Linked DNA regions of Homo sapiens: region 2 is linked to region 1. A link means that fine-mapping ties the variant in region 1 to the expression of a gene that starts in the linked region. Tissue or cell type: whole blood. Region 1 holds a variant in brackets; the other region holds the start of a gene. All regions are shown on one strand. Distances are from middle to middle.

Region 1 (5,680 bases):
GGTTTCACCATGTTGCCCAGGCTAGTCTTAAACTCCTGGGCTCAAGTGATCCACCTGTCTTGGCCTCCCACAGTGGTGGGATGATAAGCGTGAGCCCCGTGCCCGGCCTGGTGCAGGATCTTGCCTGACGTCAACAGGCAGCACTGGCACTTTGCACACTCTCCAGGCCCGTGAGACCCAGAGCCCTGGGCTGTACCCTTGACTGTCCCCTGCAGGTTCCCCCACTGTCCAGCCTGGAAAGCAGGTAGGATGTACCAAGGGAAGATGATATTAATAAAATAAAATTTAGTCCTGTGCTTTGGTTTCATCACAAATTTTAGTTTATTTCTAAAAGCAAGTTTAAAGAAAAAAGCACAAACTTTTTTAGCAGTTTTTTATCTGATCGTTTGTTTTTTCTTTATTTTTCAAAGGGTCTGACCTGTGATCCATCCAAAGAGCTGTTAAATAAATATACTAAGTAGAACACTAGATGTTTACGTTTGCTCTTTCAACCAAGCCAGTGTAAACACAGCTGTTTTTTTAAAACATTTTTCTGCCTGATAATTTCTAGAATAGGAAAACAATGACGGACCAAGCTGAGCATGGAACAGAGGAGAGGCGTGTTGGTGACAAGGACCTGCCGGTGCTGGCACCCTTTACTGCAGAGATGAGCGATTGGGGTATGTGCTCATGAGGGGCAAGGAGAAGAGCAACTCTGAGACTGTCGCCTGGAAAACGGGGACTTTGAGGAGTGGGCTCTCATGCAGAAGGAAGAACAGTAGGGGGCGTGTGGCCTGTGACAGGCGGCTGCCGTCTCCACCCTGACTGGAGACTTGGTGTTTTAGCTTAGATACTTTAAGAAGACTTTTAGATTCTGGGTTGTTTTTTTCCAGGTACTCTGCAGATGTGGACATTTTTTAATCCAGTCTCTAATATTTGAGTGTGATCTCTAAAGCCGCAGAATCGGTTGACAGCCTGTCATTTTCCTCTCAGCAGCTGCATTCGTTCTCCTGACCCTCTTTAACAAAGCACAGACAGGTTGAGTGCAGGGCTCACACCTGTCATCCTAACACTTTTGGGAAGCTAAGGTGGGCAGATCATATGAGCTCAGGAGTTCGAGACCAACCTGGACAACATGGCGAAACCTTGTCTCTATAAAAAAAAAAAAATACAAAAATTAGCCAGGTGTGGTGGTGGGCGCCTGTGGTCCCAGCTACCCGGGAGGCTGACGTGGGAGGATCGCTTGAGCTCAGGAGATGGAGGTTACAGTGAGCTGAGATTGTGCCACTGTACTCCAAGCTGGGTGACAGAGCGAGACCCTGTCTCAAAAAAGAAAAAAAAAATGCAAACAGATTATTAAGAGGAATGCCCTGTGCGCATCTTACCCCTGGTCACACTGAAGAGCTACTCCCTGTCTGTGACTCTGATTTAGCCTTTGCACAGACGTGCTGACGCCTGACCTAGGTGAGGACGTGTCCACAGCTGTTGAGAGCTGTTTGCATCTAACTGAAACTTTCTTCACTTTGAATACAGTAGATGAAATTCAGACCCCTAAAGCAAGAAAGATGGAGTTTTTCAACCCAGTGCTAAATGAAAATCAGAAGTTAGCAGTTAAAAGGATTCTGAGTGGTGACTGCCGTCCCCTCCCGTATATTCTCTTTGGACCTCCTGGTACTGGAAAGACAGTGACAATAATAGAGGCTGTTTTACAGGTAAGGACAGCGGCGCCGCGGGTGCTGTGGCTCTGTGCTGCTGTTCATGTGTCGTCTGTGTCTTCAGGAAGTGTGAGTTTAGATTGTAGAATCAGACAGTTGGAAAGAGCTTGAGAAATACCAGTTATTTCATAATGTTAAGTCTGTTTTTGTGGATATGTAGGGATTTAAAAGCTTATTTCATAGGTTTAGAAGGAAACTCATTTTTAGCCTGGTAAACTATTTTATCTGAATCATGACATTTTGCTGCAGAAAAGAAGTTACTCTTATAGTAGCTACAGCCACCATTCCACAGAAGTTTTAGATATCTTCATTTGTAATTGAAGTTAAGTTTATGAAACTATTGTCTACAGATGCTTCTTAACTTTTGATGGGGTTACAACCCAATAACCCATCGTAATGGGATTTGGGAAGCCTGTTTCAGGTTCATCAAGGCATGATCCCTTGTCAGGTGAGGAGCAGACTGACTGGGGATGGTCTTCACACCATCATAAAGTCAAAAAAGCGTTAAGTCAAACCATCATAAGCCGAAGACCATCTACATTTAGCGTCATTCAGGATTCAAATTAGCAAACAGGTATTGAGCGCACAATTGTACCACACGCCAGATGTGTGCAGATGAATCTGACTCTGTTTCTGCCCTGAAAGGTGGTTTAGAATCTTAGAGAGTGCGGAGAACCTTCCCACCTAACCCATGCTTTGGCAGCAGTGTGATGAGGCAGAGTCGTGGCCCAGGTCTCAGTGTGTTGGGGGCTGGCATCTGAGCCCATGCAGCTGAGTCCCTGCACCCGAATGTGTGTGTTGAGGTTAGACTCCTGGTTTCCACCTTGCGGTGTGGATGTTGAGCCTTGGTCTCTTGTGTGTCTTTGATGAAGGTACACTTTGCCTTGCCGGACAGTCGGATTTTAGTCTGTGCGCCCTCCAACAGTGCTGCTGACCTCGTGTGTCTGCGGCTGCACGAGAGCAAGGTGCTACAGCCGGCCACCATGGTCCGGGTGAACGCCACCTGCAGGTTCGAGGAGGTGAGCCCTTGGTGCAAGCAGTGGGGGGCACCAGAACCCCTCCCTGGAACATAGGAAATGCCAAGTGGACAGGGGAGGGCAGGGGTAGGAGGGTGGGCACAGAGGCGCCACAGAAAGCTGTGTTTGAGAAATGGCTCTGCCATGGGCCCTCCCTCACCGCTAAATGGTGGAGCTTGATTGCTGACTATTTCATCACATTCTCACTCTGTGTGAGTTATCACACCTATTGTGGGCATTCGTAGCATTGTAAAATTATCACATTCCTCTTTTATTTAATCCCCAAACGTCTTGTTACTTTTTAAGTAGTTTTGTTTTGTTGGTTTGGTGTTTTTTGTTTTGTTTTGTTTT[T/G]TTTTTTTGAGACGGAGTCTCGCTGTGTCGCCCAGGCTGAAGTGCAGTGGCATGATCTCGGCTCACTGCAAGCTCCGCCTCCCAGGTTCACACCATTCTCTGGCCTCAGCCTCCCAAGTAGCTGGGACTACAGGCACCCGCCACTGCGCCCGGCTAATTTTTTGTATTTTTAGTAGAGACGGAGTTTCACCGTGTTAGCCAGGATGGTCTCGATCTCCTGACCTCATGATCTGCCCGCCTCGGCCTCCCAAAGTGCTGGGATTACAGGCGTGAGCCACCGTGCCCGGCCTGGTTTGGTTTTAAGTATTCCTTTAAGTTGCTGGTTTGGTTATAGAGCGAAGTATTGCTTTTATTTTTTTGTTTGTTTGAGACAGAGTTTTTGCTCTTGTTGCCCAGGCTGGAGTGCAGTGGTGTGATCTTGGCTAACTGCAACCTCCGCCTCCCGGGTTCAAGCAATTCTCCTGCCTCAGCCTCCTAAGTACCTAGGATTACAGGTGTGTGCCACCACATCCAGCTAATTTTGTATTTTTAGTAGAGACAGGGTTTCACCATGTTGGTCAGGCTGGTCACGAACTCCTGATCTCAAGTGATCCACCCGCCTCTGCCTCCCAAAGTGTTGAGATTACAGGCTTTAGCCACTGTGCCCAGCCTGAAATATTGCGTTTAAAAAAGACATTGAAAATAGCTGGGCGTGGTGGCATGCGCCTGTAATCCCAGCTACTCCGGAGGCCGAAGCAGGAGAATCACTTGAACCTGGGAGGCAGAGGTTGCAGTGAGCCGAGATTGCACCATTGCACTCCAGCCTGGGCGACAGAGCAAGAGCAAGACTCCCTCTCTAAATAAACAAACAAACAAACTGAATAGAAAATGTACAAAGTTGTTTTGGGGAAGGGTCTGCAGGATTATGTGTTATATTTGTGGCTCTAGAGTTGATAAAACATGGACTGAATTGATAAGGAAGTATGAGATATTTTGAGAAAAAAACCTTAAATCATGACTTAGACGTAACTAAGAAGTGGTACCAGGGCAAGGTTCCCTTTTGGAATTCTGCTTAATAATTGGAGGAGTAAACTAACTCTACGCCTCCTTGCCCCCAGATAGTTATTGACGCCGTCAAACCGTATTGCAGAGACGGAGAAGACATCTGGAAAGCCTCACGCTTCCGGATAATCATCACCACATGCAGCAGCTCAGGGCTGTTTTACCAAATAGGAGTGAGGTGAGCCCCGGGCATGGAGCGCGGCATGGGGCCTCCCAGGGCAGAGGTCGGAGTCCTCTCCTAGCTTCTGTCTGAGGGGCGGATGACCCAGAGACTCAGTGCTCAGGGAGGGAGGCAGGGCTGTGGGCGAGAAAGGCTGGTTGGGGAGGGCCGTGCCTGAATGGAGCTGGGGAAGCCGAGACCCCAAGGACTCGAAGGAGCCAGCAGTGGGATGGGCAGGCAGATGGACTGGCCCATGCAGAGGCCCCGCGGTGGGGGAGCACTGAGGTCTCCCCAAAGGAGACTGTAGAGCCAGAGCCTCGTGAGCAGGAACGGCCTGAAAGGGGTGGTGAGGGGGAGGCCTGGCGGGCTGTGGAGGGGCCTTTGGACGACCTCTGGTGAGCCGGGAAGCCAGTGAAGGGCTTCTGAGCAGGAGAGTGAGTCTCTTGGAGTGGGCGTGGGGAGGCAGGCTGCCTAGGAAACGGCTGGGCTCTGTAAGGTCAGACCCTGGGGGCCATTTGTGTCCCTGGCGCTGGGGGCTCTTCAGGGGAGACAGGCGGAGGAGATGGATTGTGGGGTGCCGGCTGTCATAGGAGGACCTCCCCTGGGGGCTGGGAGGAAGAGCTTCGAGCCCAGGGAGGCTGAGTGAGGACCAAGGCACTCTCAGACCCCAGTGCAGGGGGGTGGGGTCGGGGAGGCAGCAGGCAGCTCCCTCTCAGTGCATAGAGCCAGACAGTGTCGGGGGCACAGGCTGAGGGTGAGAGAGGGAGAAGCCAGGGCCTCTGAGGGAAGCCCCACCCTCCCTGACGGCCTGGAGACAGGTCGCTCTGAACAGTGTCCAGCGTCACAGTGGTCGTGACCCTCCCTGACAGCCTGGAGACAGGTCACCCTGGACAGTGTCCAGCGTCACGGTGGTCGTGAGGGTGACCACAGGAGGTGGTCCGTCAGCTCCACATGGAGCAAAGGCACAGCCAGCCACGCCTATCACAGCGTGTCACGGATGGTTTCATCGGCGCGTTTAACTCTCTCACATACATGATGTCCTTTCATCATGAGATTAGTAGAACGTGATTGATGAGACACTTTACATTTTTTTTGGTTCAAGTCTTCAAAATCCACCATGTATTTTACACTTAGAGCATGTCAGGTTTCAGACTAGCCACTGTGCGGTGCCCGAGAGCCGTGTGTGGCTACCGGATTGGACAGCACGGATCTGAACAAGACAGGGATTTTTTTTGTTAATGTGTGTTGATGAGTCAAAGGTCAAGAGCCGAAGAGCCAGTCCTCACTGGGGTGCAGAGGGCTCTTTGGGGGCAGAGCGGGCACTGCATGGACCCTGCACCCTGGAGCTGATGTTCAGGTAGTGGGAGGAGGTGGCCGGCCAGGGCAGGCCGCTCTCTCAGAGGCACTCTGTGCAGAAG
Region 2 (5,340 bases), 60 kb before region 1:
GGGCAGGGGCCAGAGACCCAGCAGGCATGTGGAAGCGAGAGGAGGGGAGAGCTCGGGACCAGCTGAAGCAGGAGGGGCGTGGGGTCCGCGGCTTGCGGGCCAGAGGGGCATGGGGTCCGCGGCTTGCGGGCCAGAGGGGCATGGGGTGCGCGGCTTGCGGGCCAGAGGGGCATGGGGTCCATGGCTTGCGGGCCAGAGCCCAGGGGTCAGCCAGCATGGTGCTCTAGCTGCCGGGACGCTGGGGAGGCAGTGGCCGGGGTTCACAGAGGACCAGGGGACAGCGGTTGTCTGTCCTCCCTTGCTCTGAGGATCAGTGGGTGCCTCCACCGGCCTTGGCACTGTGTAAGTTTCTAAAAACACAACATGAAGCTTTGGGAGGATGTGGGGCACAGGTCCCAGTCCCCTGAGGGCAGATGCTGCCAGCTCTGGCAGGACGCAGCCGCAGGCTCAGAATCAACACGCAATTCCCTGCACAGGCGTCTGCAGAGCAAGGTTCAGGCCTGCTTCATCAGTAATTCTCAAAGGTGATGAACTCTACGTGAAACTAAAGTCATATGAAGAGTTTTTTGTTTTTTTCTTGTTGTTGTTGTTTTGAGACGAAGTTTCACTCTCATTGCCCAGGCTGGAGTGCAGTGGCACAATCTGGGCTCACTGCAACCTCCGCCTCCCAGGTTCAAGCGATTCTCCTGCCTCAGCCTCCTGAGTAGCTGGGAGTACAGGCACCCACCACCGCGCCCAGCTAATTTTTGTATTTTTAGTAGAGATGGGGTTTGTCCATGTTGGTCAGACTGGTCTCAAACACCTGACCTCAGGTGATCCACCCACCTCCACCCCTCAAAGTGCTGGCATGACAGCCATGAGCCACTGTGCCCGGCCCATATGAAGAGGTTTGAATGAGGTACAGGTGACAGAAACCTGCACATCTCAGAACAAAGAAACCAGAGCACGTGCCGGCGAGCTTGGGCACTGGCAGAGGCGTGGAGGAAGCTGCTTACAGAGCCTGCAGCACAGCGCAAGTAATCCATCTCAGCCGGGAACACGTTCCCCAGGTACAGCGAAAACCCCGAGGTCACCAGGAGGCAGCTCTGCAAGACAGCGACAGAATCCCAGGTTACAACGCGCCCCGTCCCCAGGCTGGACCCTGACCCTTCAACTTCTGCTTCACTGTCTGTGTATTGGTGACTCACCCACGTCCCCCAGCATCAACCACACCCGCACCTGGGACCCGCCCATCCTGGACTCCTCCTGTAGGACAGACGCAGCCCCGCCGCAGCCCAGGACATGGACCAGCCTCCCCCAGCCATGTCGGAGCATGGACCCCCCACGCTGTTATCTGGAGGAGAGAAGAAAGGGGATCTGCCAATATTTAGAGCAAGGAATGGCACCTCTCCCCACAAAATACTCCTGCCCCAACATGTTGTGCGTGCAGTCTTCCAGATCCCACACCCAGGTCCAGACACGAGACTGGAAAACAACTGCCCATCCCCCTCCGTCTGCAGAACCTAATTTCCAGATCTGGAAGAAGATCCCTCCAGGCAGGGGCTCCAGGCCCAGGGGCTCCTGAGCAGGGAAGACCCTAGCAGGAGGCAGGGAGGGTGCTCTCTCTCACGCACAGCACTGCAGGGGTGCGGTGGGGAGGGGGCTCTCTCTCACGCACAGCACCCCCGGGGTGAGTCTGAGGGGAGTCAGTATCAAAGGTCACTGGGACCCAGGGTCCTGGCAGAGGAAGCGAGGTCTGGGGCAGAGGGGATCTGGCCTGGGCGGGGGAGGGGCTGCGACCAAGTCCAGGGCACCAGGTGGAGGAGGGCAGAGCCCGGAGATGGCCACCACCACCCGGGAGCCGCCTCTGTCCCCAGCTCCGAGGCAGACGCCTGTCTTGGTGGGGCATGCTCAGGCCACGGGAGGTGGGCAGGACCACTGTGGGTGCTGCAGGGGCTGCCGGCGGAGGCCAGGGCACAGGGAGGGGAGAAATCACAGCCTGGATCTCATTCTCAGCCCAAGCTACACGGAACCGGGGGTCCCTGCATAGAGGCCTGTCCTGCAGCATGGCTCTGAGCAGCTGCACACACTCAGGCCCAAGTGGCTCCTCCAATCATCTCTGTGCCCACGACTGTGCAGGGAATGGCCAGGACCCCAGGGAAATCCCTCGGACATCTGGCGCTGCCCGTCCACCCCAGACCTGTTCCTTTGTTCCCCAGCTCCCTCCCAGCCGGCCCCTGAGGCCCTCCCTAGGAGGAGGAGGTCCCTGAGGTTCTCTCTGTGAGGGCCGACCTGAAGGCCTGAGACGCCTCCTCCCACCTTTGCAGGTGACCCCTCAGAGGACCCTGGGCCCCCAGAGCCGAGGGTCATGGAGACTCCTGGGGCCCATTCATGGCCCTGGGACTGTCCCTACCCTGGTGGGACTAAGCCACAACCTGGAGCAGCTCAAGGCTGGCACAACAGACACCCATAAATTAATAAAAATAATTGTGAAAACACAAGCAAAACAAGCTCGTCGGCATCCAAGAGTTCTGCAGCAGCAGGGTTAGTCTGAGAGTTGCTCTCTCTGTCCCACCTGGGGCTCCAGGGCGCTGCAGTCCGTCACCAGAGGGACCAGATGCTCGTGGCCCTCCAAGGGCTTAGTGTGGAGCTACTCACCCCCATCAGCACAGAGAAGACCCACGTCTTGTGGCTGAAGCAGGGGGGCAGTCTCTTCGACAGCTGCAGGTCGCTCGGCTTCGCGTCTGGGGCATAGCTGGCGGGGTCTTGCCGGCCCCGCTCCAGCGTGGGCATCCGGTCATAGGCCAGCTCCTCTCTGAATGGCTCCTGGGTCATGGCACTTGGGGACACCACAGCTGTGCTGAATGTACAGCCACGTGTCACCAGTTCTTTATCTGGAATAAAATTATCATCGGCTTTGGCCACTCTGAGGAAACTTCAATAAGTTGTTTCCAAGAAATATTTTTTAACAAAAGAAATATTGTTCATACTGAAGTGCTCTAAATTTGAAGAAGAAAATGAGCACTTGAATCTAAAAGTGAAAAAGAAATAACTTTCCTAGAAAAACGGACCTGAATAGTCTGGGTTCAGGGTGAGATTCTACACTTTAAATGCCTCATTGATCCATCTGGGCCCTCCAGGTGCAACACCTGACAACATCCATCGGCAACTTCGTCCATGAACACATCACGCCGGGGACTCAAGCACGTTAAACTGCTCCAATTGGTAGCTAAACGAGAGATTGCAAAACATGCCTCTACTCAACGGCTTAATGTCTGAGCACTTACCTCCCCCGCTGCTCTGCCGTTGGGAGCACTGGTCTCTGGGTGAGGGACTTCCAGCAAGAAGTATTCACAAATGAAACAAAAGCTCAGCAAACTTGAGCTGAAGGCAGGGGAAGGAGAGCTGCTTCCTGAATATCAATGAGGGGAGGAATCGGGTGGATCGTAGAAATGTTTCGTGTTGGTTGTGTAAACCACTGCCTCGGAGCTGTCAGAACCCAACTAGGAAAGGAAGGGGCCCTGCCTGTGCCACTCGCCACAGAGCTCGGGTCTCTCAGAAGAAAGAAGCGTCCCTAAGAATAGAATCCCACCAAGTACACATTCTGAGCAGGCTCTGTTTCTGAAACGTAACTGTTTACTCGAAGGTCTTCTACATCTTTCCAAGTAGCCTTTTTCCATCCCCCACAGCCACACGGTGGGAACCTCCTTCACACGGTCACATAAGCATTCACGCACTCGGCTTAGCTGTGTGGCCTTGGGCGGCTCCGGATTCGGCCCTGTGGTTTGCGTGGGCAGCCCGGATGGCTGGTGGGCCCGGTCCTGCTGCCCCCTTTATCTCTGCTCACCAAGCAGAGAAAAACCACAGTAATGTGTGTCGCCCAGAGACACTGGCACCCTGACAACTACAGCAACGGGTTCTTTGTGCACATTGTAAAAAGGCTCAAACTAAAGTTTCTGAAAAACCAGCTCCTTAAACCATGAACCCACATTAAAACTTGAGCAAAGTCATCAGGTTCCAGACCATGGGATGTTCTGTTGTCTTCGTTTCAATCAAGCAAGAAGCTTTTAGTAAGCTTTTATTAGCTTTTAGTAAGTTTTTATTAGCTTTTAGTAAGATTACACATACAAGCATCCCTGTCCCAGTGAAAATGCCCACTAAATCACCTCGATCAAAATGCGTAAGTGTCAAGTACGCATAAATGCAGCTCAAAACACTTTGCTCAACCTCACCCCCACAGGAAACAGCAGTGATAAATTTTTAGCAATAAACGAAAGTTTAAGCTATACTAGTATTTTAGGGTTAGTTAATTTTGTGCCAGCCACCACAGCCAATGTTCTGTTGTCTTCATTTCAATCAAGCAAGGATGAGAAATAATTTTCAAAAACTATAATCTGTGAAGTCAAGAACTCATTTTAATGGATTGAGAAACCTCCCAAACTTCACTATCTTTTAAAGCGATAAACGGGATTAGTGGGAGTGGGTCCAACTGGATCGAATCCTCCTGTGTTTCTTTTTGTTTGGAAAAAAATGTTAATCGGATTTCAACATTTTTTTCTTTCAAAAGTTGCTCTCCACTTAGAAATACAAACAAGCTGCCCTGAACCAGAGGTTGCAGAGCAAATCCCTCAGCTTCCCAGATCATAAGTCATCACTTGAGAAATGCTCCCAAGTTTCTGTTGGCAACACTAGTTTCTAGAACAGGCCCTGTTCTTTCATACAATCTTCCAACAAATTCTTGCTCCTAAAATGCCCTTCATCCCTCTGCCTGCTGATGTCCCATCATCATTCAACATTCAACAAACATTTATGGGGTGGACAAAGAAGTGACGTCCTTCCTATAGGCTGTTTACATTCATTGGGGGCACAGGAGTGCACAGGATAAACAAATTAGTGTGTTATACAGTGATATGGTTTGGCTGTGTCCCCACTCAAATCTCATCTTGAATTGTAATTCCCATAATTCCTACATGTCGTGGAAGGGGCCCGGTGGGAGGTAATTGAATCATGGGGGTGGTTACCCCCATGCTGCTGTTCTCCTGACAATGAGTGAGGTCTTATGAGATCTGATGGTCTTTTATAAGGGGCTTTCCCCGCTTTTGCTCAAGACTTCTCCTTCCTGCCACCTTGTGAAGAAGGACATGTTTGCTTCCCCTTCCACCATGATTGTAAGTTTCCTGAGGCCTCCTCAGCCCTGTGGAACTGTGAGTCAATTAAAGCTCTTTCCTTTATAAGGACTTGACTCTAAAATTACCCAGTCTTGGGTATGTCCTTATAGCAGCGTGAGAACAGACTAATGCATCCAGTGACACACATGATTTCCTCTATGAGGGAAAAGAAGTCAGGGGAGAGAAATGAGGG

What was found. PIP is the estimated chance that this variant, and not a neighbour inherited with it, causes the effect.
Region 2: MLC1 starts here. The variant in region 1 is fine-mapped to the expression of MLC1 in whole blood (INTERVAL, PIP 0.99).

Annotation. Positions count from the first base shown.
Region 1 is chr22:50,141,531-50,147,210 of GRCh38, forward strand. MOV10L1 (Mov10 like RNA helicase 1) reads left to right here. Exons shown (of 27, transcript NM_018995.3): 16 at 551-659; 17 at 1,513-1,691; 18 at 2,567-2,713; 19 at 4,159-4,280. Among named protein-coding and RNA genes, the nearest start is that of PANX2, 26 kb to the right of the region's middle. The variant T/G (reference allele first, on the strand shown) is at 3,062.
Region 2 is chr22:50,082,089-50,087,428 of GRCh38, forward strand. MLC1 (modulator of VRAC current 1) reads right to left here and starts at 3,338. Exons shown (of 12, transcript NM_015166.4): 1 at 3,267-3,338; 2 at 2,638-2,873; 3 at 996-1,085. The coding sequence starts at 2,814. RefSeq lists a silencer at 972-1,266 and an enhancer at 2,986-3,610.